Regions from separate parts of the Homo sapiens genome. Here all the other regions are linked to region 2. The links come from fine-mapping of genetic effects on gene expression. A gene starts in region 2. Each other region holds a variant in brackets. All regions are shown on one strand. Distances are between the middles of the regions. Region 1 overlaps LOC105373611 (a long non-coding RNA gene). Region 2 holds the start of HS6ST1 (heparan sulfate 6-O-sulfotransferase 1). Region 3 overlaps HS6ST1 (heparan sulfate 6-O-sulfotransferase 1). Region 4 overlaps LOC105373611 (a long non-coding RNA gene). Region 5 overlaps HS6ST1 (heparan sulfate 6-O-sulfotransferase 1).

What was found.
Region 1: its variant is fine-mapped to the expression of HS6ST1 in whole blood (INTERVAL, PIP 0.98).
Region 3: its variant is fine-mapped to the expression of HS6ST1 in whole blood (TOPMed, PIP above 0.99).
Region 4: its variant is fine-mapped to the expression of HS6ST1 in nasal epithelium (TOPMed, PIP above 0.99). The same link has a PIP of 0.9 or more in unexposed skin.
Region 5: its variant is fine-mapped to the expression of HS6ST1 in whole blood (TOPMed, PIP above 0.99). The same link has a PIP of 0.9 or more in blood mononuclear cells.

What each region holds. Positions count from the first base shown.
Region 1 is chr2:128,570,006-128,575,766 of GRCh38, forward strand. The region is part of intron 1 of LOC105373611 (a long non-coding RNA gene); the gene reads left to right. Among named protein-coding and RNA genes, the nearest start is that of HS6ST1, 250 kb to the left of the region's middle. The variant C/CA (reference allele first, on the strand shown) is at 2,584.
Region 2 is chr2:128,315,800-128,321,560 of GRCh38, forward strand. HS6ST1 (heparan sulfate 6-O-sulfotransferase 1) reads right to left here and starts at 3,069. Exons shown (of 2, transcript NM_004807.3): 1 at 2,238-3,069. The coding sequence starts at 2,764. RefSeq lists an enhancer at 927-1,076 and silencers at 2,078-2,307, 3,002-3,411.
Region 3 is chr2:128,284,851-128,290,611 of GRCh38, forward strand. All of the region lies in intron 1 of HS6ST1 (heparan sulfate 6-O-sulfotransferase 1), which reads right to left. Among named protein-coding and RNA genes, the nearest start is that of HS6ST1, 31 kb to the right of the region's middle. RefSeq lists enhancers at 1-488, 2,983-3,812. The variant C/T (reference allele first, on the strand shown) is at 3,447.
Region 4 is chr2:128,487,112-128,492,872 of GRCh38, forward strand. The region is part of intron 1 of LOC105373611 (a long non-coding RNA gene); the gene reads left to right. Among named protein-coding and RNA genes, the nearest start is that of HS6ST1, 170 kb to the left of the region's middle. RefSeq lists enhancers at 4,648-5,449, 5,264-5,558. The variant A/G (reference allele first, on the strand shown) is at 2,890.
Region 5 is chr2:128,262,474-128,268,234 of GRCh38, forward strand. HS6ST1 (heparan sulfate 6-O-sulfotransferase 1) reads right to left here. Exons shown (of 2, transcript NM_004807.3): 2 at 3,007-5,761. The coding sequence ends at 5,689. Among named protein-coding and RNA genes, the nearest start is that of HS6ST1, 54 kb to the right of the region's middle. RefSeq lists enhancers at 1-85, 100-601. The variant C/T (reference allele first, on the strand shown) is at 2,918.

The DNA.
Region 1 (5,761 bases), 250 kb after region 2:
CAGAGTGGGGGGGCTGGATACCTAAAGAATTTCTTCTTTATCCTAGCAAATGATTTGATGTTGATTTTCCTGTATCATTATCTTCTGAAATATGTTGTGTCCATTCAAACTTTAGTTATACATTCTTCCTTTTTCTTCAGGAATTTTTTTCTCATTTTCATTGGATATTTTAATTTCCATTTGGTAGGTTCCCTCATTTAGGGATACCATTTATCCATAAGTTGGATACTTTTTGTTTGCTTTTCATGTCCATTGATATCTGTTTAATTACTTTAATCATGTTATCTTTTCATTCTGCATTAATTTTGATTATATTCAGTATTTCCTCTATGCCAGAAACTTGGTAATCAGTCATGTCTTTTCTTTTCTGTTTCTAATTTACTTATTAGTTCTGTAAAAGCTCTTTGTTTCCTTAGCTCCTTAATCTCCCCTTGTTATGCCATTCTACCATTTTAATCATCTTTAAAATCTGTAAATCCACCATAGTGTAGCAGAGCCCTTCCACATTTATCTCCTGTAATCCTTACGACAATTTTAAAGAACAGATATTATCTTCTTGCCTCAGCATCTTACTATAAAAACTTTTCACATACAGGAAAGATGACAGAATTTTACAGTGAACTCCCATCTTCTTAACACCTAAATTCTACAACCAAGATTTTATTACATTTGCTTTACTATCTCTCTTTCTTTCTAAATCTTTCTTTCCATTCCTCAATCCCTTGCATTTCAAAGTTGCAGACATCAGTACACTTCCTCCAAATACATTAGCAGAATCTCTATTTTTGAGTTCTTTCATTGCCTTTCTGTTCTGTGTAAGATTTTCTTTAACATGAAGCACTCTTGGAATTTTCTACCATTTTTTATTCCTCCCCTCTCCATGCAAGATTTGATTATTCATCTTTTTTTTCTTTCCTAGAATGTTTTAACATTTTATCTATTTATTTTTGTGATCTTATATGAGGTGACTTCAAAAAGTTGGGAGAAAAATAGAACTAAAAGATAAAAGTAAAATATATAAAATTTATTTCTCAACGTAAGTTTCATCAAGTTCAAGGCACTTTTGTAAGTGGTGATACCAGCCATTTAGTTAATCTGTAAAGAACTGAGGATCCTAGGAATTTAACCATATCAGTACAGACTTTTTTACATTGTTAAGTGAAGAAAAATAGGTGCCTTTAAATAAATTTTAAGGTTAGGAAGCAAAAAGAAGACAGACGACGTCAAATCAGTACTGTAAGGTGGCTGCCTAGTGATTTCCCATTGAAATACTCACAGAATTGTCCTTGTTGGATGAGAAGAATGAACAAGAGCATTGTTGTGGAGGAGGACTCTCTGATGAAGCTTTCCCAGGTGTTTTTCTGCTAAAGCTTTGGCTAACTTTATCAAAACACTCTCATAATAAGATGTTATTGTTATTTGGCTTTCTGCAAGTCAACAAGCAAAATGCCTCGAGCATCCTAAAGAACTGTTTCCAAGTTCTTTGCTCTTGACAAGTCCACCTTAGCTTTGACTGGACCCTTTCCACCTCTTGGTAGCCACTGGTTTGATTGTCTTTTGTCTTCAGGACCATACTGGCAGAGCCATATTTCATCTATTGCAATTCTTAGAAGAAACGCTTCAGGATCTCGATCCCACTTGTTTAAGATTTCCATCGGCAACCCTGCTCTTGTCTGCAGCTGATCTTGGTGCAACAGTTTTGGCATCCATTAAATGGAAAGTTTGCTCAACCTTCAGTTTTCAATTACATTGTGAACTGATTGAGAGGTCTATGGTGTTGGCTATTTGTGCTGTTAATCACCAGCCCTCTTCAATTAGGGCACAAACAAGATTAATTTTTTCCTGGCAAGTCGATGTAGATGGTTTGGTGCTGTGGGCTTCATCTTCAACATGAACTCATCCCTTCTTAGAAAGAGTTATTGATTTGTGAACTGCTGATTCCTTTGGAGCATTGTCCTCATAAGCTTTTCATAAAGTATCCATGATGTCACTGTTCTTCCACCCAAGTTTCACCGGAAATTTGCTCTTTGTTCTTGCTTCTATTTTAGCAGAATTCATATTGCTCTGATAGGGACTCTTCAAATTGTTGTCTTATCTTTCCTGTTTCCCCAAACTAGATTCTGTTCAGACATGTTATAACAAGTTAGTACAAGTTTATTTTGGCACAAAAGAATTTGAAATCCCTGCATAGTTTTTTTGATAATAGACATTGACCATGAACTTTTTGAGGACCCCTCCATAGCTGCTATGCCATCTCTTTTCATTTTAATGTATGTAGCTCCGTCAGGTCTTCCCATTGGTTGGCTGGGCGCAGTGGCTCACACCTGTAATCCCAGCACTTTGGGAGGCTGAGACGCGTGGATCACCTGAGGTCAGGTATTCGAGACCAGCCTGACTAACAGGGTGAAACCTCATCTCTACTAAAAAATATAAAAATTAGCTGGGCGTTGTGGCAGATGCCTGTAATTCCAACTACTTGGGAGGCTGAGGCAGGAAAATCACTTGAACCCGGGAGGTGGAGGTTGCGGGGAACTGAGATCATGCCACTGAATTCCAGCTTGGGCAACAGAGTGAGACTCCTCA[C/CA]AAAAAAAAAAAAAAAGACGTCCCATTGGTTTCAACATGGTGTGGGAAATGCCTCCTGGCCTCGCTTTGCATTTTATTGGATGTTATTTTTTCTTCCCCTCAGAGTTTCACTTTGAGGGCTAGGCATATCATGGTTTCCTGTAGCTGGATATGGGGCTTGTGCAGAGGAAGGTGGGGGTGCTGGGCTGTGGTCAGCGGACACTCTGGATCTAAGAATGCCTCTGCCCTGCTATTTCATTGGGAAGTTGCTTCCACTAGGGTTCTCTTCCACTGGAAGACTTTAGTTCAAATCAGAGCCCTCCTCTCCCATGGCTCCTCTGCAGGCATCCTGTCTTAAATGTCCACCCCCCTCCACTCCAGGTGTTTTGGAGGGTCCCCTCTGCCCTCTCTGCGGGTCTGTTTCCCACTGTGGGTCTGTAAGGAGCTACACAGAACTGCACCCAGCCTCACTATGATGACTCCAACTCACTTCAACTCTTTCTTTTTTTCATCATTACTTTCTGAAATTTATGTTGAGGATATCTCTACTTCATAATAAGCTGAGCCAGGTTGTATTCACTTAATACGGATCAGATGTGACACAAGCTATTCACAATGGCTGCAGTTAGCAAGGCTAGGTCAAGTCTTCTGCTCATCCCGTCTATCCCAGCGCCTCAGGGCTCCTCAGATGGCCTGGGCTGCTCACCATCCCTCCTTTATCTGAAGAGCTAGGGACAGCAGAGCCAGCCACAGAGCTCCAAATGCAAGACACAAGCGCTTGATCGCACTGCCCTCTGCCTCTGTCCTGAGGGGACAGCGTTCCCATCCAGCCCACTCAGGACATTGCTTTGGTGTGATGAGCTGTGTGGATCTCACAGTGGGGCCTGTTAAAGAAAGATTTAAAAAAGATTAAAAAACCCTCGGTCCTAGGCTCAGGTATGAGCCTGTCACCTAAGGACAGTATCAAGGAAGAAGAAAGACAAATGATCCTCCAGAAAAATGGTCACAGGACATGATCACACATTTCACAGAAGAAAAATCCCTAGTGGCTAATAGGCATGGAAAAATATGCTCGCCCACCCCAGCTGGGGCTGGGGAGTGCCCATTCATATGGCCACGGGACACCCCTGGACAGGGTGCAGCAGTGACAAGAGGGACGTGGGCTGGGGTAGCATAGGCTGTGCTGCTGGGAGGAGAGGAGCTCAGCCAGCCTTGGGGGACAGGAAGGTAAGCCCTGATGAGGCTGAATAAGTAATACTGGAGAGTTTAGCACCAGGCACCCTCCCCAGGGCAGCACCTCCATGAGAGGGGAAGATAGGAACAGGTTTCAGGAGCACTGTTTACAGTAGTGAAAGATCGCCATGCCCACCGGGGGGAATTGGATAAATAAATTATGGTGTATTCCTATGCACACATTCTAACAGCAATGAAAATAGACGAACTAAATTTACATGACTCCACTCCAAGACCGCTTAGAGCAACAATGGTGAGTGAAGAAAGCATGTTTCCGTGTTATAAATTCAATGTGACTTGGTGTAAATAGTAATAATAAAGCATCACGCTGCACTCTTTAGATGCACGGCCAGATTAAAATATTCTTCTCAGGACGGGAGGAATGCATGCTAACTTCAGGAGAGGACTTTGCTTGCTGGGAAAGGAGTGGGACAAGGGAGGGGTACAGGGCAAACCTCAACTGTCGCTGTATTATTTTATTTCTTTAAAACTCTCCGAGGCACCTGTGGAAATGTGAAGAGCAGCTGCCCGGGAATCCTGCGTGGAATGAGCAGAAGTGGTGAAGGGTCCTCTTTCCCTGACTGTCGCTTAGAAAGACCCTCTGCTTTCATGCAGGTCACTTTCTGGAAGTACTGCATGGAGTGAGTGAATGCTTGGTGGAAGGGCAGCTGTGTAGTTTACCTGTGCCTGCTGAAATCCAAATGCATCATCCGGGACCAAGTGAATTCAATAAAGGAGGAGACTCCTACTCAAGCAGGCAACTAGACTTTGAGGACAGAAATAGGAATCTGGGCCTAATGAAGAGAGCTATGTTAGCTTTGCTCTACAATGCAATTTACGTTTACTTCTTTTTAAGATAATGTGAATTCATTGCCTGGTTGACATTTATCTTATTTCTCATATTTGGGCATGAGTGTGATTTCACCCCCATTGTCCACAGCATGCTGAGCAGCACTCAGAGCAGCAGTGTGGCAAGAGTCAGACTGAACTTCTTGTCCGCAGTCTGACCTCCGGCAAGCCTGTTCATCATTCTCGGCCTCAGTTTCCCTGATGGTAAAATGATGGGTGTCACTAGATAATCTCTAATGTGTGGCCCAGTTCTAACATTCAAAGGTAAAATGAACTGCGTGCAAGAAGCACCCAGATGTCTAGGAAGTAGTCCCTGCCTTTGTTTTGCCACAGAATAGGCATAAGATAGAACCGAGTAGAGACAGAGAAGCTGCACTAAAATCCTTTCATCTCAACAGTTTGCACCTCCTGAATTTCTAGTTGTTTTCTTTAAGAAAATTTGCTGTCAAATACCAACATTGCTCATTTGTTGATTTTCCACTATACTTGGCTTCAACAATAAGCTCTGCTTTGTATCAAAAGCCCAGAGACGTGAAGTGCATTTGTTCTTGGAAAATTGGGAGGTGGATCTATTTATCTACTGATTATAAAAGTTATAGATTCTAACAGAAAATTTAGAAAATACAGAAAAATTTAAAGAAGAGGCCAGTGCTGTGGCTCACACCTGTAATTCCTGCACTTTGGGAGGACGAGGCAGGCAGATCACCTGAGATCAGGAGTTCGAGACCAGTCTGGCCAACATGGTGAAACCCTGCCCCTACTAAAAATACAAAATTAGCCAGACACGATGGTGTGCACCTGTAATCCCAGCTACTCGGAAGTCTGAGGCAGGAGAATCACTTGAACCCGGGAGGAGAAGTTTGCAGTGAGCCGATATTGTGCCATTGCACTCCAGCCTTGGCAAAAAGAGCAAAACTCCATCTCAAAATCAAAAAAAGAGAAGAAATCAAAATCACCCAGAGGACAGCATCATTAATATTTTATGTACTTTCTTCCAAACTTTTCAATGGGATATATAAATTCAAATATAGAAATCTTAAAATTGCAGAAAAGTGCAAATATAACAAGCACTTGTATATTCACCACATAGAACTAACAACTGTTAATATAGATTACA
Region 2 (5,761 bases):
ATTACCTTGGCCTCCTGATGAAGCTCATTAAAAAAGCAATCTACCTAGTGCCTGCAACAGAACTGAAGGGAGTGGAGGCGGAGAAGAGGGACTCGGAGGGTGGGGTGCTGTCACCTGCCCGGTAGCACAACCCACTTCCAGAGTGGGTGGCAGAGGGGGCCTCCTGACGGCCCTGGAAGCCCCTCCCAACCCTGGCGCATGCTGCTGAGCTAGCAATTTCCAGGCTGGCAGCCCACCTCCGCCAGAGGCATCTGCGTTTTCCATTCTTGCTCCACACATGCTCCCTGGGCAGGGGGAGCCGGGCCTTCCTGGTGTAGCACCTGGGGCCCCATCGGCCCCACCTGGTCCTCCCACTCTCATGGACAAACTCCAGAGAAAGGAGGCCAAGGCTCTTCACCCTGGGGACCCACAGGCGTGCGGGGCTGCAGGAAGAGCATCCTGGTTGCAATCTAGGGCTGAGGTGGCCTCTGCTGAGCAGGCTTGTTTCAAAAGCTCCGGCTTCTTGGCGGCCCGAAGCTTCCACGCAATCCTCTTAGGCTGCCGAGCTAAGTCCCTCTGGCAAAGGGGGTGACCCCCATCCTTGCACCCCCCACAGGTAGGGAGGCGTCTGTTGGTATTGGTCAGTGACCAACTCTGGGAGCCTACTGCTCTGACTGGTGGAAGGGTGGGTGGGGGCATGGCTGTGGTCCCAGGCACAGCTGAGCCTAGCACAGAGAAGCTGGACCAGGGTTAGGGGGGCCCTGCAGCAGGAACGTGCATCTGTGCAGAGCAGACTAAGTGCTGGGCCGGAAGCAATCCTTCAGGGGCCCTAGACAGGCAGCTCTGTGACCGCCAAGTGTAGAATGTGGCTGTAAGAGGCTCAGAACATCACCTCCCAGGCTGGGAGCTGCAGTGTGTGTGTGTGTGTGGGTGTGTGTGTGTACAGTTGGGGGAGGGGGGAGAAAGAAAAGTGGGAAGATGCCCCTCCAACTCTAGGACCCCAATTTCCTGACAGCCTGAGAAAGACCACAGAGCAAGGATTGAGGTCTGTGCAGGGGAGCAGTGTCTCGGACTCTGCTCAGCTCCAGGCTGGCTGGACCTTCCAGGCTCCCCAGGCACACCTGAGAGCCTACAGCCTCTGGACCCAAGAGTGCCAGCCAACACGCCTACAACCGCCCAGCCTCCTACCACCAGCCTGTCTGCAAATTCAGTCCTAAGGCAAATTTGGAAGAGAAACAAAAGGCAGACAAGAAGCCCTGCTCCTGGCCCTTCCCAGCCCAGACTTTGGGGAGAAAGGCCCCGCAGGGCATCCCTGCAGGACGAATGGGCACCAACAGGAACAGGAGGAAAATAACCCCAACTTTAACTGCTGGAAACCCAGCAGCACCCCAGGTTCCCCTACAAACGGCTTCCCAGAAGAGCTGCCCCGGCACCCCTCCCATGCTCTGTGTCCTCACGCAGCTCAGCTCTGACATGGGGCTGGGGGACCCCAGAGAAGGGGTGTGGCAGCACAGGTTCCCTGGACCAGCTCAACTACCCCCAACCTGGCTGGTAGCTTCCTGGGGAAGGTGGTCCCCCATCGGGTGGCTTTTGTTCCTCTCTCCAGGCAAGCCTGTGCCTGGAAGAATTCGGCTGGCAGGCCCCACTGGGAGGACAGGCGGTACTGCCTCCTCCCCGCCCCCAGCCCCAGGTCAACAGGGCCTTTGTTCTACCTGCACACACCGGCAGGCAGGCGGGCAGAGCCAGCCCCCTTCCCTGGCAGCTCCCCCACCCTCTGAAGGCAGGCACTCCAGGCACAGGGGCGGCACCTCACTACTCTCACTTCCACTTTTGGGACCACAGCACCGAAGCGGCACGGGGAAGCCAACACTCCAGGTAGGCCACGCACACACCCAGAAGCCCGCGTCCCCAAGTCCGGCGGGCCAGACCTCACGGCGCACAGCAGGTAAGGTGGCCCGAGGGCAGCGGGCGGGGACCCTGGAGAAAACCCGGGCGCTGCGCAGTCAAGCCGGCAGTAGGGCAGCACAAGGCAAGGAAGAGAGTGAGAGCGAGGTCAGAAAGCGCGGTGACAGCCGGCTCACCCAGAGGAGCTGGGAGCCTCGGGCGCTCGGCAGGTCGGGAGGGGTGCCGGCGAGTGGGGGCCCCCAAGAGGGCAGAAGGGGGTAGGGAAGGCAGGGCCGACCCAGTACAGCACGGCGGGCATACGGCCCGGCCTCGGGGGCGCAGCTGCGCGAGGATCCCGCCGCCCGGGCGCTCACCTGGGCGTGCGCAGCGCGGCGGAGTCGCGGCGGTCCAGCACGCCGGGCACGCAGTTGGTGAGCTCGGTCCAGTCGGCGTGCAGCCCGCAGCTCCAGCCGGTGGAGAAGCGGGAGAAGAGCCAAGTCTCGCGGCGGTTGGGCCGGTAGCAGGTGCACTTCTTCTGGCCGGGCCGGCAGTCGCACGGCACCTCGAGGCGTACGTTCTGCACGAGGTGGCGGCCGAAGGTGGTGCCGCCCGTCTTCTGGATGTGCAGGAAGACGATCACGTCGTCGCCCTTCATGTCGAAGCGCAGCGAGCGCTCCAGCTCGCGGACCGGGAAGTAGTACTTCTTCTCGTAGTGGGGGTCGGGTGTGGGGAACAGGTCCAGGTCGTCGGGCGGCGCGCGGCCGCCGGGCGCGCCCAGGCTCAGTCCTGGGCCCGCGTACTGGTACAAGATGAGCATGAAGCACACCGAGCCCGCCACCACCAGCACGAACTTGCTGGCGCGCTCAACCATGGTCCTGCCGCCGGCGCGCCGCCGCCGCATGTGTCACCATCGCCGGGGCCCGGGCGCGGGGCGCGGGGCCTGGGAGGGCAGGAGGCGCGGGCGCAGCTGCCTCCGCCGCCGCCCGCGCTCCGGCCCGGCCCGGCTACTCGGCGCCCAGGCCGCCCGCAGCGGCGCGGGCCCCGACCCTCCGCGGTGCCATGGCTGCTCCCCGCCCGGCCCCGGCTCCCCGGGCCCGACGCCCGACTCCGCTCCCGCTCGGCCCCGCTCCCGGCCCCGGCCAGCACAGCGCTCTCCGCGCCCCCAGCACCAGCCCGCTCCGCTCCACTCCGCGCCGAGAACGCTCTGCGCCGCCCCGCGCGCCGCCGCGTCTCCGCAGTCCGCCGCCGCCGCCCCGCCCCGGTCCGCCCCTGGCCCGCCCCCGTGGCGTCTCTTGCCGTCGCCGCCCGCGCCGATCCTCGGCCCCGCCTCCGGAGTGCCGGGGTTCGCCGCGGGTGCTGGGCGCGGGACCTGGGTCTGCTGCGGTGGCGAGGCCGCTAGCAGGCGGGCAGCCAGCGACTGGGAAGTGATTCCGCCCTCAGGGGAGTGGGGGACCAACCGGCAGTGCGGAGCCGAGGCGTGGGAGGCTCTCCTGGCGGGGGCCGCGGTGAGGGGGCGCGGCGGCTGGCGCTTCTGGAGCCTGGGTCCGTACCCCCTCCTCCCCAAGTCCCAGCCGCCCACGTCCCCGCAGCCCGCGCGGGAGGAAAGGCCTTGACCTTGCACGCTGGGGCGCTGAAGTTAGACGCTAGCCTACTGGGCTGCACTTCCAGGGACCAGGGCGGCGGGGGCCGCCCACCACCAGGACCGAGAGGGAAAGCGAGGCTTTCCTTTCCTGCTCGACCCCCTCACCCCTGCGGCTGGCTTTGGGACAGTGCCCCGCAGCCCCGCATTGAAGAGATGTTGGGCTGTCTGCAGAGGCCTGCGGAGCGGCTTTATGGCTTCCTCCTTGTTTGAAAAGAATATCAGACGAGGTGCATTTTCCCCCATCCATGTTTATTATACTCCAATGAAAGAGTTATAAAACATTGAGCCAATTCTTAAGAATCGTGAGTGCCCACCAAATATTCTGTCTTTCGTGGGTTGGTTGGAGAGTCCAGCGGCCCGGGCCCAACCTGGCTGCGGAGGGCTCGCTCCACGTTGGCTCGTGTGTGGGCCGGGTGGTGCGGGCTCCTCACTCGCCGCCGCCCAGCCTGGCAAGCACGCGCGGCATTCGTGGGGCGGGGGGTCCCGCCAGGTGCCCACTCACACTGCTTGGGCTCTGGCAGTACTCGGAGGCTGCAGCCCGTCGGAAGCGCAGGAGTGGGGCTGGGACCTGCCAGGATCTCACAGCTGCAGGGCCGGCCGCGGTGGGCCCTAGTGTGTTGGTTCAGGCCAGCGAGGGCTCTGGGAGCGAGTCTGGCTGCCAGGCGTGGGCTCCCAGTGTCCACGTCAAGCCCTGCCGGGGACGGGGTGGGGGGGGAGGCGGGGTGGTGCCCTGCCTTCCGTTCTGTTAGGGACCGGAAGCGATCATGGGGTGTCAATTATGCCTCAGTAAAGCTGTTAAACGTAGACAACATCACACCAGAAAGCCCTCCTGGAAGCAAACCCAGAGAGCTGGAAAAACCAACACCCCAAACCCAGCTGAGCGGGCGGCATGCATTTTCCAAAGGGACCGCAAGAATATCCGCTGTGGACAGGCGGGTGCAGAACCCTCAACACAGCCCAGCGCACCCTGGAGTCCATGGTGTGGGGTCCTCAGTGGGACCTAGGGCCCCAAAGCCCCTGCTCATCTTGTAGGCTGCTTTAAAACTGTCCCTGGCCCGAGGGTCCTGGGGGCAGCTTGGACAAGCTTCTCCAGAAGTGACTCATTCCTATAGGAGTGGGGGTGCAGTCCCCATGGGACACAGGTGGGGCCGCCCTGCAGTGTGCTTGGACCTGCCTGCAGCCCCTTGACGCAGTCTGTGCCTGAGCCCTGGGGAGCCTTCCTGTGTGGCCTAGGGGAGCACAGCTGCCCCGGGTCCACCCCCCAGATGTCCTTACCCAGATAAGGATCCTCGTGCTACATCATAATTAAGGCTGCTCTTTTGGAGACCTGCTGGGTGCCAGGCATTGTAGAGGTGTCATTTCCAATTCCATCAGCAAATCTGCGGGGGTAGGCTGTGATATCCATTTACAGAAGAGAAAACTGAGGTTCAAAGGGGTTAAGACCCTGGTTCCAAGGTCAACCACTCTCACCCCATGAGAGTCAGCAGAGCTGGGATCCTGATTCCTGCTGTGAGCCCCAGAACCCTCCCCTTCCCCACCTCTGCACTTGCCCCAGCTCCCTAGGCCAGGGATGAGAGCGTCTACAGGGGCCACTCCTGAGAGCCTGGTGACCGTCACTGCCACCAAGGGGGAACGTGGGCCCAGAGTGTTCAAGGGAAAGCTGGAGCAGCTCCGAAGGCCAACGAAGCCATCGGTACTTGGGCCATGGCTCCACCCTGTGATGATCTCACTGTCCCAAGGGGGAAACTGAGGCCCAGGCAGGGACGAAGTGCCTGTGATAAGGTCCCACCCTTGAATGGGAGCCAGAGCAGCCTGACCCATGGAGCAACATCTCCCAGAACAAGCTATTTAATCCAACTTCATACCTGCCACACTGGCTGATGGGAAGCACTCACATTAGCCAGGAAGCCCTTTCTTTCTAGAATTCTTTTAAGAGGAGGGAAATCTGCCTGGCTGGCTACAGGACTTTGCTCAGTCTTCCACTTTGATTGAAGCCCTGCACAGGCACCTGAGACCCTAAGGCTGTAGGTGAGTTTCTGGGCTCTGAAAGTCAAGTCAGATGAGCCACCCATCAATCAGTGGACACTTGAGCCGAGTGGAAGGCAGCTCGAGCCCTCGTTGGCGGGGCAGCTTGCATCACGCTACTCCCCACCACTTCCCGCTACTCCCCGCGATGAGTCCTCAGTGTCATGTCTTGGAAAATGGATAGAAACGCACAGTCTGGGGCTGGCGTGGGGTTCCAGGAGGTCAGCGGAC
Region 3 (5,761 bases), 31 kb before region 2:
GCCAGAAACGGAGAGGGACCCCACGGCTGCAGACCCCCACCCCCCACCTGGTGGTTTGGGCCTAAATGCTGAGCTCAGTTTTTCTGGACCTGCCAGTGCTCCTCCTTGGAGGCTTCCAGGATGTCATCACTGTGGCCCCACTGGCAGGCCTGGTGCCCGGGCCTCACCAGAGCACCCTGTGCTGCGACCCGACCTCTGGCCTCCAGGAAACAGGCGGCATGCCAGAGAACACACGCTGATGGAGTGCCTACTGCGTGCTCTAGGTCGCCGACCACCAGCCAAGCCCTGGGGCAGCAGTCCCCATCTAGCCTGTTTTCCAGTAAGGGAAATGAGTGTTCCACGCTCTCTGGGTTCTACCCTTCTTCTTTGTAGCCTCCCAGCCAGGGGTCTGGTGGAGGTCTGACTCCTCTGTCCTGTGCCCTTGGATGTGGTATGGAGGAGGGGAGAATAAGGCAGCCCCCAGGTTCTGGGCGCACCCCACTCCCTACGTGGGAAGGGCAGGTGGCTCCCTCTCTAGCCTGCCGTGGTGGCAGGGTCCACAGACCCCACTGGGGCCCAACAACGTGAGGCCCTGCCTTGCCCTGCACTGGGCGCCTGTGTACCCAGTCTCCCAAGGCCTTGTCCCACCTCACAGCCAAGCTGCTCACCTGGATGCCTGCCGCTACGGCCCAGCTCTGCTACCCTGAGGACTCAGCTGCACTGTGCAGGGAAGGTTCTAGGACCAGGGGAAGCCTTGGGGGATGGGCAGGGCTGTCTGCCAGCACCTGGGCCAGTGAGGCTCGAGGAAAGGCCCGTCTGTGGCACCCCTGTCTCTGCCTCCACCCTGCCAGGCTGACTCCTGCCTGGGGGTCCATACACTGTCTCCCTTCCCATGGTGGGTGTCCCTGCCTGCCAGTTACTGCTCCCAGCTGGCTCGGACAACCATCCCCATGGGCCAGGGCCTTTCTCCACTGATGGGTGGTACTGGGAGCTGAGGGCCTCCACCCCACCCTCAGGCCGGCAGTGGGACAGGTGCCGTCTGCCCCAAAATAGCTCTGTCCGGCAAGGGGGCTGAGGAATTGGATGAGACAGCCAGAGGGGACACAGGTCCCAGTGTCAGATGGATGAACAGGTGGGATTCCTGCTCTGCCAGCTGTCCTGTGTGGCCTGGGGACAGTCACCCTGGCCCCTCTGAGCCCCAGGGACTGTCTCCATAAAACTCGTAGACAGAAAGCCACTTCCCAGACTGGCGATCTGGTGTGTGGCGTATGTAGGGAGACTTAGAGCCTACAGCACCCTGCAGGGGTGAGGGCTCATCCAGCCCAGGACTGGCGTGGGGGACCCCAGCAGGTGCAGCAGATGTGAGCTGTGTGATCTCACCTTGTCACAGTCCCTGTCCCATCCAATCTGCCATTCCTATTCCTCCCTCCCAGGGGGAATCTATCGTGGCCGAGGTCTGCGGGCTGGAGCCAGGGTCCTGCTCTCACAGCATCCTGCAGGGCCAGGAACATAGACACTAAAGACCCAGGCAAGCAAGCGCCAGGGAGGGGTGGGTCAGGGGGCCTCATCAGACTGCAGGTCAGGAGCTTGGAGGACGAGGAGGAGCAGGCCTGGCAAGGGGGCTGGGGAATGAATTCCAGACAAACCTGCAGAGCAGCAGAGGACAGGCAGGAGGCCGGGCAGGGCCCCTGGGAGCTTGCACTGCACGCCCAGGCTTTGCAGGCCATCCAAATGCACGGGTTGGTCAGAAGAGGAAATGAGTTCATGGTTTCAAGGACAGGACACTGCTATTAAATGGTGGGAAAAAGGAAAACTTCTGACCTTGTGTCAAAATACTGACTTGTTAAAAAATAAAAAACAAGAGGCTTTATTAGCGTAGGTTTAGGAAATACCTCCTCAGCCCCTTCCCTAACAACGTCTGCAAGCGGGTGAAAATCTTTGCTGGCTTTACAAACAAGGTCAGCAAAGGTTTCAGAAAACAGAGCAGGCTGCTGGCCACGATACGCCTTGCCTCCTGCAAAGCTGTGCCCACCCAGATAGAGAAACCAAGGCCCCACCTGGTTGCCTGGGGAACAGCATCCCCCAAAGCAGGAGGCCCCTCTGAATGCCTCCTAGGAGCCTGAGACTCCCACCTTCCCCTTGGGGTGGTCGGGGAGCAAGTGACCAGGAAGCAGAGGCCCCACACTGGGGGAAGCCCAAAGCTTTTCCTTCAAAGCCCCCTGACCTGCATGATCTCATTGCGCCCTGACAAGGAACCCTCTGGGGCAGGGGGTGGCTTAGCCATCAGGTGGACACACACTGTGGGGTGCCATGCAGGCCACACCCGCCACACCTCCACAAAGGCACTGATGGGAAGGAAGCGCCCAACCCCTCCTGGTCCCAGGAATGGTCACTCCCATTCCTGACCAGGGCAGTCCCCCTGCAAGAGCACCTCAGTGGATATATCCAGGGCCCAGGGCACTCCCCCAGAGAAGGTGCAGGTGAGGCCCCTTCCCCTGAGATGCACTGCCCAGCTGTGGGCAGGGACAGCTGCCCCCCCTACTCAGTGAGGGTGAACGAGACCCCCAGCAGGTCCCCTGACGGGCTGCTTCTCCAACAGCACTGAAGTGGGGGTGCACAGAGAACTGGGCAGAGAGCCGGGATGTGAGGCTTAGGACTGCCTCCACCTAGCAGGTGTCAGGTAAGGCTGTGACTTCTGGAGGTCCTAGAAGTCACCCCCAGGGTAGGGGCCACAAGAGGAGGTGCTGACAATGTCCTCCCAGCAGGGCCAGCTAGAGACGCCGGGTCCAGGGGTGCTCTGCACCAGCCCTCTTCAATGAGGGGAGAACAGGCGGATGGCTTTCTGGGAGCTTGACCCTGTCCAAAAGCCCAGCATGGCTGTGAGCAGCCCGGGCCCAGATGCTGCTGACTGGACACCTGGAATGGGGCTCTGCCGAGGTCTTCCATGAGCAGAAGGGGTGAGGACCACCTCCTCACCTGTGTCCCACTGCCCTTCAGACTCTCCTGCCTGCTGCTCCAAGGCAGGGCTCCAGCAAGGCCATGAGGGCCCTGCGGGGCTGCTCGCCGGTCATGAAGGCTGCCCATTCATATTTCACACCTGCCTGCCTGGCACTTTCTGGCTTCTGACACCGGCAGGCGAGATGTCACTTATGCCTGAACGCACACACTCATACCTTGGGGTCAGGAGAAGGTGACAGTGCCCTGCTTCTTCACAGGGCACGCAGTCGAGCAGCAGGGCAGCTGACTAGGGGCGGGCTGGCTCGGCCTGAGACCTGTCTCCAGAGCCATGGCCTCCTCTTGTCCTGGCCAAGAGCTCTGGGGCTCACTCCTTCTGCTTCTAGGCCTTTTGCTGAGGCTATTGCGAGGACTCACGTGGCCCTTCCTCTTCCTTACAGCCTGTAACTACACATCCACCATGGCTGCTTGGGCCCACCAAGAGAGACGTGGAGGCCCGAGAGGGAGGCTGG[C/T]GGCAGCGTCAGGTCCTGCCGGGGTGTGCAGTATTTGTACCCTGCTATGAAACTGTCCCTGCCAGGTGAGAAAGTGCTCAGGGCCCTGAGGCCAGCCAGCACGACTTGATACCTACGCCCGGTGACTCCATGGCAGTAGAAAAGCACAGCCCTTCTGGGGACTCTGCATTAACACAGAAGCTCATATCTGTGTGCACAATGGGCAAAAGAGCCACATCAAAGCTTGTGGGTACAGCCTGATGCCAACTCTGGAAAACACATCAACTGGAGAGATGGAGCAGAAATGCAACCCGCGCCAGGTGCCCTGGGCCTAGTGCCCTGGGCCATTTTTTCTTTTACTTTTTCTGTATTTTTCCGATTTTATATAACCATGCATGTATTAGAAAACAAACAAACAAACAAAACAATCTAATCTGACTTTCTCACAGGAGGTAGGAGAGTCAGGGAGGCCTGGGAGGCTCAGGGCCTCCCCAGCAGCCTCTCAGGACATCTCCAAAGCCACAGGATCATCACCAGTAATCAGCCTTTCTCGGGGTCAGGAGGGCGAGAGCTCATCTGAGGATCACTGGGGGTGTCCCTGGGACCCCTCCAGGCTCCACCTCCTGCTGACCCCACAGCAACTCATGTCAGGGTCCGAGGCAAAGTCCTGGTTCTCACCCACGACCCCACAGAGCCTCTCTGCAGCGAAGAGGGGCTGACACCTGCTCCCTCAACCCCCGAGTCCATATAAACACAGAGGCGGCCGCGGAGAGATGGCCTTGCATGCTCTTGAATGTAGACTATTCTTCCCCAGACAGGGAAATTCAGAGCCTAAACAGCCCACCCCAGAGATAAGCCATTCTGTGCCCAAGCTAACTGCAGTATCCAACTCTATACTCCCATGGCCCTGGCTCTACTTACAAGGAGGGCGACAGCTCCGGGTGATGCACTGAGAAAGCTGTCACCTGAGCAGTGACCCTGGGGACTCGGGAATGCTGACTCTCCAGAACCAGCCATTTTATGGCCCCCCATCAAGCACTTCTGTGGTTGGTGCCTCCAAAAAAGGTTAGGGCCCAGCAGGCATTTGCTCATTTTATTCCTGCAACCCCGGTACGGTCGCCACTATTAGATCCCCCTGCAGATGGGCAAATGGAGACTCAGAGATCCTTCTGCAGCCAAAGTCTCCCAGATACCAGAGGTGTCTGACTTCATAGGCCACAAGGCATGTCTGCTGCTCACCCACGTGCACGGTCCCTGAGATGAGCAGCACGAAGCTCCCAGGAGAACCCGGCGCGCCATTGGCAGCACCAGAAAACAGGTCTCCAGCTTGCTAAGGGATCTGCCATCCAGCAGCTGTGTGGCCCTGACGAGTTCCCCAAGGAATGCATCTGTCATCTGTTTCCTCCTTGCACAAAACAAGACAATATGCCTCCTGGAGGTCACAGCATGACGCTCGGCATGAGGATGGGCCCACCCCAGCTGGCAGGGAAAGAGAGGAAGCTGCCGGAACAGACCTACCTGCTTTCACCAACCACAGGCCAGAGGCACCAGGAGAACATGTAAGAGATAGAGAGAGGATAGCTGTCAGTCAAATTATTTGTATAAAATGTCCAAATATAAGTCACAAATAGCCCGATAATCTCAAAAAGCAAAAATCAAAGCAGTAGTTTAAAATCTTCCTAAAATATTGAGGAAATGCCTGCAGCTTACATTCAAATGATTCTACTAAAATGCAAAAGCATGTATATAACTACATATATAAATATACATGTAAGTACACATGTATCTACAGATATACATATATGTAAACAGCAAGTGAGAGCACCCACTCACAAGCACAAATATTGCAAAATGTTAACAAGCAGTGGGTCTCGGTGAAAGGTATGAGGTTCACTTTACTACCATTTCAACGACTTTGTAAGTTTGACATTTTTCAAGATAAAAAGTTAGGGGTAAAATTCCTACAAAGAAAGTGCTGGGCTATTTCTACCAAATTTTAAAAGAACCAGATTTTTGTAAGCAAACCCTCCTAGACAAGAGTAAAGCAGTGGACACTCCCAATTCATTCTATGAGGCCAACATAATCCTAATACCGAAGTTGGACAAATGCACAAGAGAGGAAAATTGCAGCCTGGTGGACACATCTGCTAAGCTCAGAGTTCAAATATAGATACAAAAATTCCTCAACAAAAATCTTATCAAATCCAACCCAATTGAGCATATAAAAGATATTACACTACGACCATACTTAGTAACCCCAGGTATGCAAGGATGGCTTAACAGGAGAAAATCCATACATGTGACTCATCACAGCAACAGACTACAGAGCTCAGTAA
Region 4 (5,761 bases), 170 kb after region 2:
TTGTGTAACTTACTACCTATTTTACTTGCTCACTTGTTGGTCTGTCAGCCCCAGGAGGACGGGAACTTTGTCCATCTGCGAGGGATGCAGGAAGGCACAGAGAGGCTTCAAAATATATTGGCTAAGAGCTCAGGGTCTGGAGTGGTCCTGATTCCAGGGTTACTGGTGCACATTCCAGATTCATCTCTCACAAGCTGTGTGGCTTTGGATGAGTTACTTAACCTCTCTGTGACTCAGTTTCCTCATTCTCAATACAGAGATAGGAATGGTACCCACCTCCAGGTTGTTGAGAAGATTAAATGAGATGATAGCTGGGAGGTGCTTAGCAAGGTGTCTAGTGCAGAGCAAGCCCTCCATAAATGTGAGCATAAACAAAACAGCTGGTGGAGTGGCTCCTCTCAGCTTCTGTCTGTCATCAAGGACCTGGGGGTTCCAGTATGGCTCCTCACAATGCCTGCATTCAGCCAGAGAGAAGGGAGAAAAGGACAAGGCGAGGCACAGCCCTGCCCTTTAAAGACAACGCGGAAATGGGGCATCATTACTTCTGCTTAACACCCCACTGGCCATGATTAGTCACATGGCCAAATCTGCTGCAATAGAGTCTGGGAAATGATTTCTGTAGTCTAGATGGCTGGAAATCCAGCTGACAGTGGAGAGAAAGGGAAGACAGATACTGGGGAACCACTAGAAGCTCTGCCACATGAATTTATTCAGCATTGAAATTTCTATTTAGTAGTACCTCCTCCAGGAAGACTTCCCTGATTACTCTTCCCTCCCCAACCCCATGGGTCTCTTCTCTCCTCCTCTCCCCTTTCCCACACTGTTCTGTCTAGCACTGGTAGCACTGGATTTAATTTAATTAAATCTAATTGTCCACCTTTTCCAAGGGACTCCTTACCTGCCTCCTGTCATCCAACACAGATGACCCCAAAATCCATTTTAAAAACCTCAGAGCAGAAACAGGAGATCAAACGAATGAGTATTAAAAGCAGATAATGTAAGGTGAAGACAGGGGAGGTCAGAGTCAAAACTGCAGGGGTGGGTGCTGGAAGAAGGAAGAGAGCCAGTGCTGACCTGTGTCCACGCCATGTGGGGCATGGGATAGGGGCCGACAGGGAACAGCTTCTTCACTGGCTCCCACTGCCCACCTCCTCCTTCAACTCATTCCTCTCCCAGCAGCCTGGGGGCTTTAAGAGTCAGTGCTTTTTCTTCTGTTTAAGAACAACTTCTTACTCTTCATAATACATGAAAAGTTCAGATAACCCAATAAGATAAGAAATCTAATAGGAAAATAAGCAAAAGACATGAAAGGAAATTTACAGGAGAGTTAGCACACCTGGCTAAGAAATGTATCAAAAGTTGTCCTACCTTAAAATTAATTGAAGGAATGAAAAATTTAAATAACACTGACAAATCATTTTTAACAGACTTTATTTTTTGGAGCAGTTTTAGGTTCTTATAGCAAAATCGAGCCGAAGGTACTGAGAAATTCCATACATACCTTGAGCCCACACACCACAGCCTCCCCCACTGCAACATCCCCCACAGGAAAGAATTTTTCATCTATCAGTTCAGTAAAGATTCAAAGGGAACCCATATACAATGCCAGTGGTGTTGCTGTACTTGTTTTTGAGGGAAAATATGGAAATTTTTATGAACATTTCAAATGTGCTTACCATTGACTCAATAATGCAGGTTCTAAGAATGTGTTGTACCTGCACAGATGCATTAAGTATGTATAAGGATGTTTATTTCATCAATTCCCAGAGAAACAACAACAACAACAACCGAATGGAAGTACTCTAAATGTAGATGGCTGGGAGAAGATAAGATAAATAATACCCATGAAAACAGTAGACTCCTTTGACCCTATTAAAACAATGAAATTGATCAGTCTGCACTGATATGGAAAGACGTCAATGATTGTTAGATATCAAAGCAGCATACAGAACAATGTTTATCTCTGTCTATGTTTGTTAAAAAAGTAAAGATGTAAAGAAAAATGTCTGTAAAGATCTAGAAGCAGTGGTTAGCCTGAGAAAAAATGGAAGTGGAGAAATACATGCTCTATTTTACTCATTTTCTAAAAAAACCTAGCATATGTTATTTTTGCAATCAGAAAAAACAATAAAAGTATTTCCACACACACACAAAACAAACTAGAAAGTCAGACCTGATTAAAATTTGTGATTTGCAAATATTCTTTGATGAGAGATGGATAATCAGGATGGACTCAGCCAACTGTGGAATGGCTGAACATCAGCAAACCTACATTCCACCTTAGCTGGTTCCTTGTCCCAGGATAATGACCCAGGCACACCCCTGGGAGGCAGTTCCACTTCTTTGCAGCCTCATTTTCCATGACTTCCCCAACAGGTTGCCTCTTCTGGACATCCTTTCATTCCTTATCCCACTGGAACTGCCCCTCCTCCCATCATAGCTTATCATAGTCACTCATGACCTCCAAGTTGTAAATCCCACTTATCTGTGCCCCTCTTTACTTCTCAGCAGTTTTGAAAGCCCTGCTCTGCCCTGTTCTCAGTTTTTGGGCATGCCCTCACCCTGAGGTTCTTATCAGTCCCAGCCCCACCCTCGGCCCCAGGCTGCCCCTCTCGGCCCCCTTCTCCTCTCATCTGGATGTGGGAGCGCTGGTTCTGACCCCGCCCTTTCCCTTCCTTGTCTCTATTCCTCCCCAGGGGACCTTACCCGGCCCTTCCTCCCTTTCTCCTGGCAGGACCCCACAAGTTGTTTCCCTCCACTGTTTCATACTGACAGAGGAAAGAGACAGAAATGGAGACAGAAAGGCGGGCCTCCAAAGATGTGCAAGCTTGTAGGACCTGATTTTCCTCTCCTCAAACTAAAGGAGACCAGGCTGTCAGGCTCTGAGCC[A/G]AAGCTCAGCCATTATAACCTCTGTGACCTGCACATACATACACATCCAGGTGGCCTGCAGGAGCCAAGAAATGGGGAGCAGTCAAAAAACCACAAAGAAGGAAAACAGCCAGTTCCTGGCTTAACTGATTAACCAACATTACAACATTTTACTATTGTGACTTGTCGCTGCCCTACCTTAGCTGGCCAATCGACTTTGTGACATTCTTCTTCTGGACAATGAATCTTATGATCTCTCCACCATGTACGTTGTAACCCCCTCCTCTGCTAACAATAACCACATTTTACTGTAATTTTCCATTACCTACCCAACTCCCTTCCCCATTTCCCTTTGCTGACTCTCTTTTCGGACTCAGCCCACTTGCACCCAAGTGAATAAACAGCTTTATTGCTCACACAAATCCTGTTGGTGGTCTCTTCACACGGACGTGCTTGACACAGGCAAAGGAGAAGGAGGAAGGGAAGGGGGAGCAGCTCTGGAACAAGAGAGGAGGGTTCTGCAGAGGCAGGCGGGAGTTCTTGGGGTGAAGCATTTATTCATGGGAGGAGAGGCTCACAGGATATGACCTCAGTAAGCATCCAGTCCTTGTCACATAGTCTTAGGCACGGCCTACTGCCTGACAATCCCAGACACATTGGAACAGAGGGGCAGGGCCCTGGGAAGGGGCTTGAAGGGAAACTTCCCTACCTCCCTTTCCTGCACACCTGGCCCTGGCTGGAATAGAAAAGCATCATTTGGGAATAGAGAGCAGCTGTGGATCCATCACGGCTATCCCGCACACCATCAACACCACTGACACCTTCACCAACATTTCTAATTCTGCCTTAACCTCTCCACTGGGCTGCAGACTTACATCCAGTTGTCTCTAGGACATGTTCACTGACTTGTCCAACAGACACTGGCACTCACCAGCCTCAGGGGAAAGGCACTACCTTCCACCCACAGTCCAACCCCCAGATCAGGGAATCGCAATTCCTCCTTTCTCTACATCCTCCACCTGCAGGTCTTCAGGGTGCGACTCTGGGCAGGTCGTACTCTCCCTCCACTTAGGATTTCTCATCTGGAGAATGGGATAATGCCAGCCCCAGCTTCCAGACTGTTGTAAGGATTCAATAGGACGGATCATGTAATGCCCTTAGCCCAGGGGTTTGTGCAGGCAGCAGTCAATATGTCTTCATCATTGTTCTTGTTGGCTGGGCCAAGAGACCCTGCTTGATAGGAGAATCAAGTTCTGCAGTGAAGTTGGTGGTCTGGAAGCCGGACTCTAGCAAGGGGTATTTTGGCCTGGGTGTAGGCAGTCCCCACTCTCCACTTATTAGTCGCTCTCTGGCCTGTGGTCAGAAGCCTCCAAGGGACTGTCCCATGTGCAGTGTTGTCAGCAGTGGCCATGCAAATGGTGCCCGTGGGGCTGGCAGCACTACCCTGTCCCCAGCTGCCCGCAGTTGGTGACCTCTTCTTCCTAACACTTTGCTTTTGGTTTACCTCCTCAGCATGGGCCTGCATTTCCACTGCGTAATAGAACTAAGCTGTGGGAGCCAGTGTGGGCGGCAAGGGGACTTGGTGGCATTTGAGAAGCATTGGACAGCAGACACTCCTTGGTCAGCCCTCCCCTCTGAAAAGCAGAACTCTGTGCTGCAGCCCAGACACTGGAGAGCACCAGCCTGTCTCCTCCACCCTCCAGCGAGATGCGGGAGAAATATTCTCTCTCATTCTTTCTCCTGAGTTGTGCCTACTTCCATTTTAAATTCCGCCAAATGATCCCTTAATCTAATAGCAATTGCTAACAGCCTGGCCCTGAGAAGTCCTCTCTGCATTTCAATTCCTGCATTATCCCCTTCTTGCTGGCTTAGTAGAGCCTCTATTCCTTGATGCTTTCTAAGGCAACTAATCACTCAAACGAGGCAGAATAAACCCATTTAGACCAAACATGAATTATTTGCAAGCCAAACCCAGCACTGATGTTGGTCTAAGGTATTTGGAGCGTTATTTACATTTGTAAGTGCAGGCATTTTGATGCTAAACCTCAGGTTAAGCTCTGGGAAGCCTGACTGGCCCTGCTAGCAGCATTCTACTGCCAGGAGCCCTGCGGCTGGGGCAGTCTAGCTGGGACCCTCTGCCTGTCTGTGGACAGTGGGTGCTCTGGGTCTGCGTGTTCCCCAAGGTGAGGCTGGCTCTCTTTGCTCTCGGTAATCCCACCATCCTGCAGGGACCCAGAGCACTCGGCCCTCAGAAAATGGGGCTGTCAGTGGGAGGGCGAATTTATCTTCTAGCTAGGGAAGCAAGAAGGATGCTGCTTTTCCTAAGGCTGTTTCAGGTGCCAGAAGAGGCCCACTCAAGATGCCTCAGGAGGGCTTTCAGCCTGTGGAATCTGCGGTTTTGAGAACCTGGGGCCTGGAGCAAAAGAATAGCAGGGCCCCTAGGCTGGGCCTGGGTGAGGAACAGTGCAGTACTGAGCCCACTTGTTTGGACCGAATGCCTGTTCCCCCCAGATGCTTAGGCTGAAGCCCCAGCCCCCAATATAACTGCATTAGGAGGTGTGGCCTTTGGGAGGTAACTGGGTTTAGATGAGGTCATGAGGGTGGGGCCTTCAGAATAGAATTAGTGCCCCTACAAGAAGAGACCAGGGAGCTTGCTCTCATTCTCTACCATGTAAGAAGGTGGCTACCTGCAGGCCAGGGAGAGGGCCTCCCAGAACTGGACCCTGCTGGCACCTGAGATCAGGCCTCCAGCCCCAGGAGTAGGAGAAATAAATCTCTGTTGTTGAAGCCACCCAGCCTGTGGCGTTTCGTTATGTCAGCCCTTGACTAATCCATATTCATTCTCATTCTCTCTCCCCTCTCTGTATGGGGTTTCTGCTCCTCTTTGCTGCTC
Region 5 (5,761 bases), 53 kb before region 2:
CGGCCTCCCAAAGTGCTGATATTACAGGCGTGAGCCACCACACCTGGCCCAGCCTTCCCATTTCACAGAGAAGGAAATGGAGGCACAGGAGCAAACAGCAGCCAGTGGTCCACTTGGAACCCAAGACCTCATCTGACAAAGCGACTCCTGCAGGTTTCTCTGCTGCTGCTGCTACATGTCAGGGGACCCAGACCCAGGCTCTCCCCGCCAGGGGTGTCCTTGGAGCCCTGAGGTGAGGCCCTCCTAGGAAGGTGTCCTCATGTCATGAATACACTGTGTGCCCTCCGAGTCCTCCTAGGCTGGAAGCTCCCCGAGTCCAGGTGTACACTCCCGGGAGAGGACTTAGGGCTCCCACCTTTGCGAGGGTGGCCTGAGGATGGGTTCCTCTCTGTGCCACAATGAAGGGGACCAGGGGCCCCAAGCCAGGCACCTAGACCACGTCTAGGTAGGGTTAGTTGGGGCCCAGCTTCCCCAAGGAAGAGAACCCAGCGCTGTGTGCAAAGGTGCCCCCAGCTGAACAGGGTGTGAGGACTGATACTGGCCTGATGGCTTTGGCATGAAGCCCAAGGGGAGCAGTGGGGAGCAGGCCTAACAGGCCCATCCAGGGACAGGGCCGTGGCTGGCCATGGCTGGAGCAACTGGTGTGAAGACAGAACGCCGGGGCAGGAGGGATGAGGCATATGGCGCTGGCCACGAGGCTGGGTGGTAGAGGAGCTGCCTTTGTCCAAACCCACAGGCCCGGGAGCAAGGGCAGATGTGGGTTTCCCTGGCAGGATAGAAGGGGGCAGGGGACCTCGGAGGATCGGGTGAGCCTGACGCTCACAGTGGGGACTCTGTGGCAGTGGGCAGGAAGTGGGGATGAGAGCTGGGCAGGGGGCAGGCCTGAGCCTCCTGAGTCTTTGGCTCAGGTGGACTTCATTCATTTATTTATTTATTGAGACAGAGACTTGCTCTGTTGCCCAGGCTGGAGTACAATGGCATGATCTCCGCTCACTGCAACCTCTGCCACCTGGGTTCAAGCGATTCTCCTGCCTCAGCCTCTCCAGTAGCTAGGATTACAGGCGCATGCCACCACGCCCGACTATATATTTTTGGTTAGAGACAGGGTTTTACCATGTTGGCCAGGCTGGTCTCGAACTCCTGACCTCAAGTGATCTGCCTGCCTCGGCCTCCCAAAGTGCTGGGATTACAGGCGTGAGCCACCGCACCTGGCCTCAGGTGGACTTTAATAAAGTGGCCTTCGGCCAGGTAACAGAACAAGACTCTGTCTTTAAAAACAAAAAAAGGTGGCCTTCAACTCTAAAGAGAAGCAGGAAGAGGAAAACCCCCATTCTGGGTGAGGTATTTTCAGGTCTGATTTCACCTTTGATCATGACACTGGCCCTACAGAGTCCAGTGGTACTATCAGAAGGTGGAGGAAGCTTCCATCTTGGCTCCCCCGAGGGAGAAGCCAGGCTGAGGGCTGGTCCACACCCCAAATAAACCTCCGCATGAAGTGTCCAGGAAGGACTCGGGAGTTCCTCTTGGCGTCTGGCCTCTGCTCCTCCCTTCCGCACTCTACCTAGGCATGAGCAGGTGTTGACGTGGAGTCTGAGACTGGGGTTTTAAGAAGGCAGCTACGTTCTGACTCCTGCCCTACTTGTGCCGTGACCCTCCCAGAAACACCTTGATGACCTTTGTCACTGGGATGGTGGCAGGTAGAAGCCGTGACCCTCCCAGAAACACCCTGGTGACCTTTGTCACTGGGATGGTGGCAGGTATGAGCTGGCAGGTGACCACTATGGCTGGGTTTCCCCAGGGGCTGAGTGGGGAGGCTGGACTTCCCTCATCTGGGGAACAGAGCCACAGGACACCTGGGCTGATGGAAGGTGCCTCACCCGAGGGCCTTCCTACCCAATTTCACCGAATCTGACCACTAGGAAACTGACATCTGTAGTTTTTTTTCTTTTTTTTCTTTTTTTTTTTTTTAGGAATCTTGCTCTGTTGCCCAGGCTGGAGTGCAGTGGCGCAATCTCAGCTCACTGCAAGCTCTGCCTCCCGGGTTCATGCCATTCTCCTGCCTCAGCCTCCTGAGTAGCTGAGGCTACAGGTGCCCGCCACCAAGCCCGGCTAATTTTTTGTATTTTTAGTAGAGACGGGGTTTCACCGCGTTAGCCAGGATGGTCTCGATCTCCTGACCTCGTGATCCGCCCGCCTCAGCCTCCCCAAGTGCTGGGATTACAGGTGTGAGCCACCACGCCCGGCCAACATCAGCAGACCTTTTAAGACAACTGGTCTCTACTAGTCAAATATGTCAATCCTAAGAAAGACGGAAAAAAGAAGGGGTAGCTGGGACCCTCTCCTCCATTCAAGGAGACAGGAGAGGCACATGGGGCACCGTGTGGTCCTGGGGCTACAAAATGCTCTGAAGACATCTCTAGGACAACCAGAAGATCTGGATATTGGAAAATACTGTATTGTTATAAAATCTGGGGGGGGGGCTGGGATAACAGGGTTGAGTTTTGTGGCAGAACGTCCTTAGGAGACACGAGCTGATGGATTTAGGAGTGCAGTATTCTGATGATCACAACCTACTTTCAGATGTTTCAGAAAAGCGCGCGTGTGTGCGTGTATGAGAAAGTGTGGGCACAGGATAAGAGAAGGTGAAAAATTTAGGCCAAGAGCATGTGGGTGTCCATGAACTATTCCTCCACTCTCTTTGTCATTTGAAATCTTTCAAAATTTCCAAAGACAGGGAGGGAAGAGGTTAATGAGAATGTAACTCAGTGGCACCTGCCTCCCTCTCAACTGGTGTCATCTTCCCAAATACTATCACTAATGATTAATAAACGGTTACTCTTTATGGTGATGACAAAGTCCCATTTTTTCTTTCAGAATGCCTTACTTAATGGGACTTTCCTCACTGAGCCTCCTGCAC[C/T]TGTGCAAAGCACCCCGCCCTTGGGACGTGGTGTGAGACCCCACTGGGAGGGGCAGCTATGCCCGCAGAGACCACAGCACACCCGCCACTCCTTGTCAGGGTTTATTTCATCAGCTAACATTCATTCTCGACCTAGACAAAAACAATTAGATGATTATGACTTGCTTTTCCATCATCAACTCATTTTTTTGTATGAATAACCAAAAAATTTCTTCAACACTTTTTTTTAAGAAGAAGCTATAAATAAATAAAGCTTTAAACAATCCTGGGTTCAAGTTAAACAGTTCCAGTTCCCGAAAAGTTCACAGCCTTGTTTTGTGGGCAGTTCTGCTGTTCCTGGCTTCCCCTTCCAGGAGGGGACGTTTGCAGGTCTGGGGGTCCTGGTGACTAAGCTGTTAGCTCCACTCCCTGCCTGTTTCCGTCCTCACAGCCCTGGGAGGGCCCCGGTGGACAGAGTCCTTACAATTTAGGAGATGCTGCTGGCAAAGGAACTGTTGACCCAAAGCAGGTGGCCTGAATGGGAAGTGCCAGGCTGGACACTTGGGGGCTGAGGGCACTGCCAGCTGCCGCCGCCTCTGGACACCTCAGCCCGGCGCTGGCCCGAGAGGAGACTGCTTTCCAAATGCAGCGAAGAGACTGAGACAAGACCCGTGCTTCCGTGTGAGTTGGGATGCGGGGCATAAGTTAACACATATTCCAATATGTACAAAACAACCTGCGCTCAGGCCCGCGCACCCAGGAAGCCCATGGTGAAGGTGAGGTCACCTTGAGCCAGGCCTCTGGCTGGGTGTCCACCTCCTGCCGGGAAGCCAAGGTGCCCCACGTGGCTTGTGCAAGACCTCACAATCCCCTGAACGTGTTCCTCCTCCTCCAAGGAGTGCACCCACCCCCATGTTGAGTGTCCGAGCAGATTCCCATTGACCCTGACCTCCCTTTGAAAGAACCACACCACTAAATCCCCTTGGCACTCACTTCCTTAGTGTGATGCATCCACCCAGGGAGGTGGCCCTGCGCGGCGCTGGCACGCTGTCCACCCTGCCCTGTTGACCATCCTGTCCTTGGACCCCAAAGTAAAATGGGGCCAGTGTAGGAGACCTGAGGGTGGGGCCCTTATGCCAGACCTCCAGGGGTAGCGACCTCACCTGACCCCAGCTTCGGCTTCCTGTGCTGCAGAAGGCGCTTGCTCCCAAGCCCGTGGTGACCCACGTCTCCACCCCATGGTGTGGCAACTGTGGTGGCTGAGTGGAAGCTGGGGCAGGAGAGAGGACCCCCACCAACCCCAGCCAGGTGGCCTGCAGAGCCCACTGCCCTACCTCTGAGTCAGCCTGCGGCCTGAGCACACCAATCTACTCTCTGGGGGATCCAGGGTGCCTGTGTGGGCCCTCCTAGAGACACCAGCTTGGCCTCCTAGGGCATAAGGAATGGGGACAGGGCACAGGGCACGTGCTTACAACGGATATGCAACATGGCTTTTGGTAGGGCCATTGCAGCCAGTGGGGAAACCTGCGCGGCTGCTGGGAACAGAGCATGGCCAGCCTTTTGCCAGGGGGTGGGGAGCATGGGGAAATGCAAGGAGAGCCAGGGTGGGGAGGGCTGAGTGTCTGTTGTCAGGGAGGCCACCTACAGCTGTTTTGCCAAGGCTAGTTGAGAATCTGAAAGCTCGAGTCCCAGTTCCTGGCCATACAGAGCCACTGTGGTCCGAGGGTACGGCTCCTGGGCAGGGGCTATGGTCCCATGCTCCAGCCGATGGAAGCCTGATGAACTTAATCCGTACGCTGGTGGGAGCAGTGGTATTTGAGCTCTTGAGTATGTGTTTCGGTGATGGGGCTGGGGCAGCCTGCTAGCAAATCCCAGTGGGTCAGAAAGGAGAACAGAGGCAGGGGAGCCCTCGGTCCCCAGCCCTTCCAGTCTGAGCCAGGCCTGCCTGGATGGTCACCTCCAAGGGCCAGCCGCGGACTCACGCACAAGTGGCAGCATCCCTGGCCAAAGCCTCCCCACTCCTGGGCTGCCAGTTGGCCCGAGGAAGGCCGGCAATGCAGCTCGGGCCTACTACCCAAACCCCTCCTTGGTCTGAGGACTGTAGGGAGTGGGTGGGGCCTGAACATCAGCTTTGGCCTCCTGACCCAAAGCATGAAGCAGGACCATGGGCCAGAGAGGGGAGCAGGCTTCCTGGGGGCTGGACTCGAGTCTTCTCTGCCTCAGATGGGGTGGGCCCTGACTTTGAGGGAGCTACAGATGGGTGAGCTGGGGGCTCCCCAGGCCTCGGGGCATTGGGGGCAGCCAGAAGAGGAGGGGCTATGGGATGGCCTGGAGCTGGGGCAGTTGCCAGAAGCTGGTCTCACTCCTAGTAGCCCGGACAGAGGAGCTAAGAGCGAGTGCTGTGTGCATAGTTGGTGAGGGACACACTCCCGGCCTGGCAGGTCCACTTTCCGCTGTCCTCGTCTCTTGCGCAAACCTTCAGTTTTTGCGATAAATCCAAGGAGGCCAGGAGAGCAGCTCCAGGCACAACACCTGCTCTGGAGGCCCTGCCCTGACCATGGCATCCTTCGAGCACGCTTTCCTCTGACCCACTGGGCTGCACCTGTTGATTTCTCAAGCCCCCATCCCTGCCCAGCCCCACTACATCCCTGCTCTGTTTTTTTTCAGGACGCAGCTACCTCTGTGGAGCAGGTTTGGGATGCTCATCCCTTGACAGTCTTGGGTGGACCTGTCGTCTGTCCTGTTTTATCCCCCACACCCCCCAAGAGGCCTCCCCGTGGCCACCACCGCCACTACCACTTCTCAATGATGTGGCTCATGTAGTCCTCGGTGGGCACGCGGCCCGGCTCGTCGGCATCCTCCCGC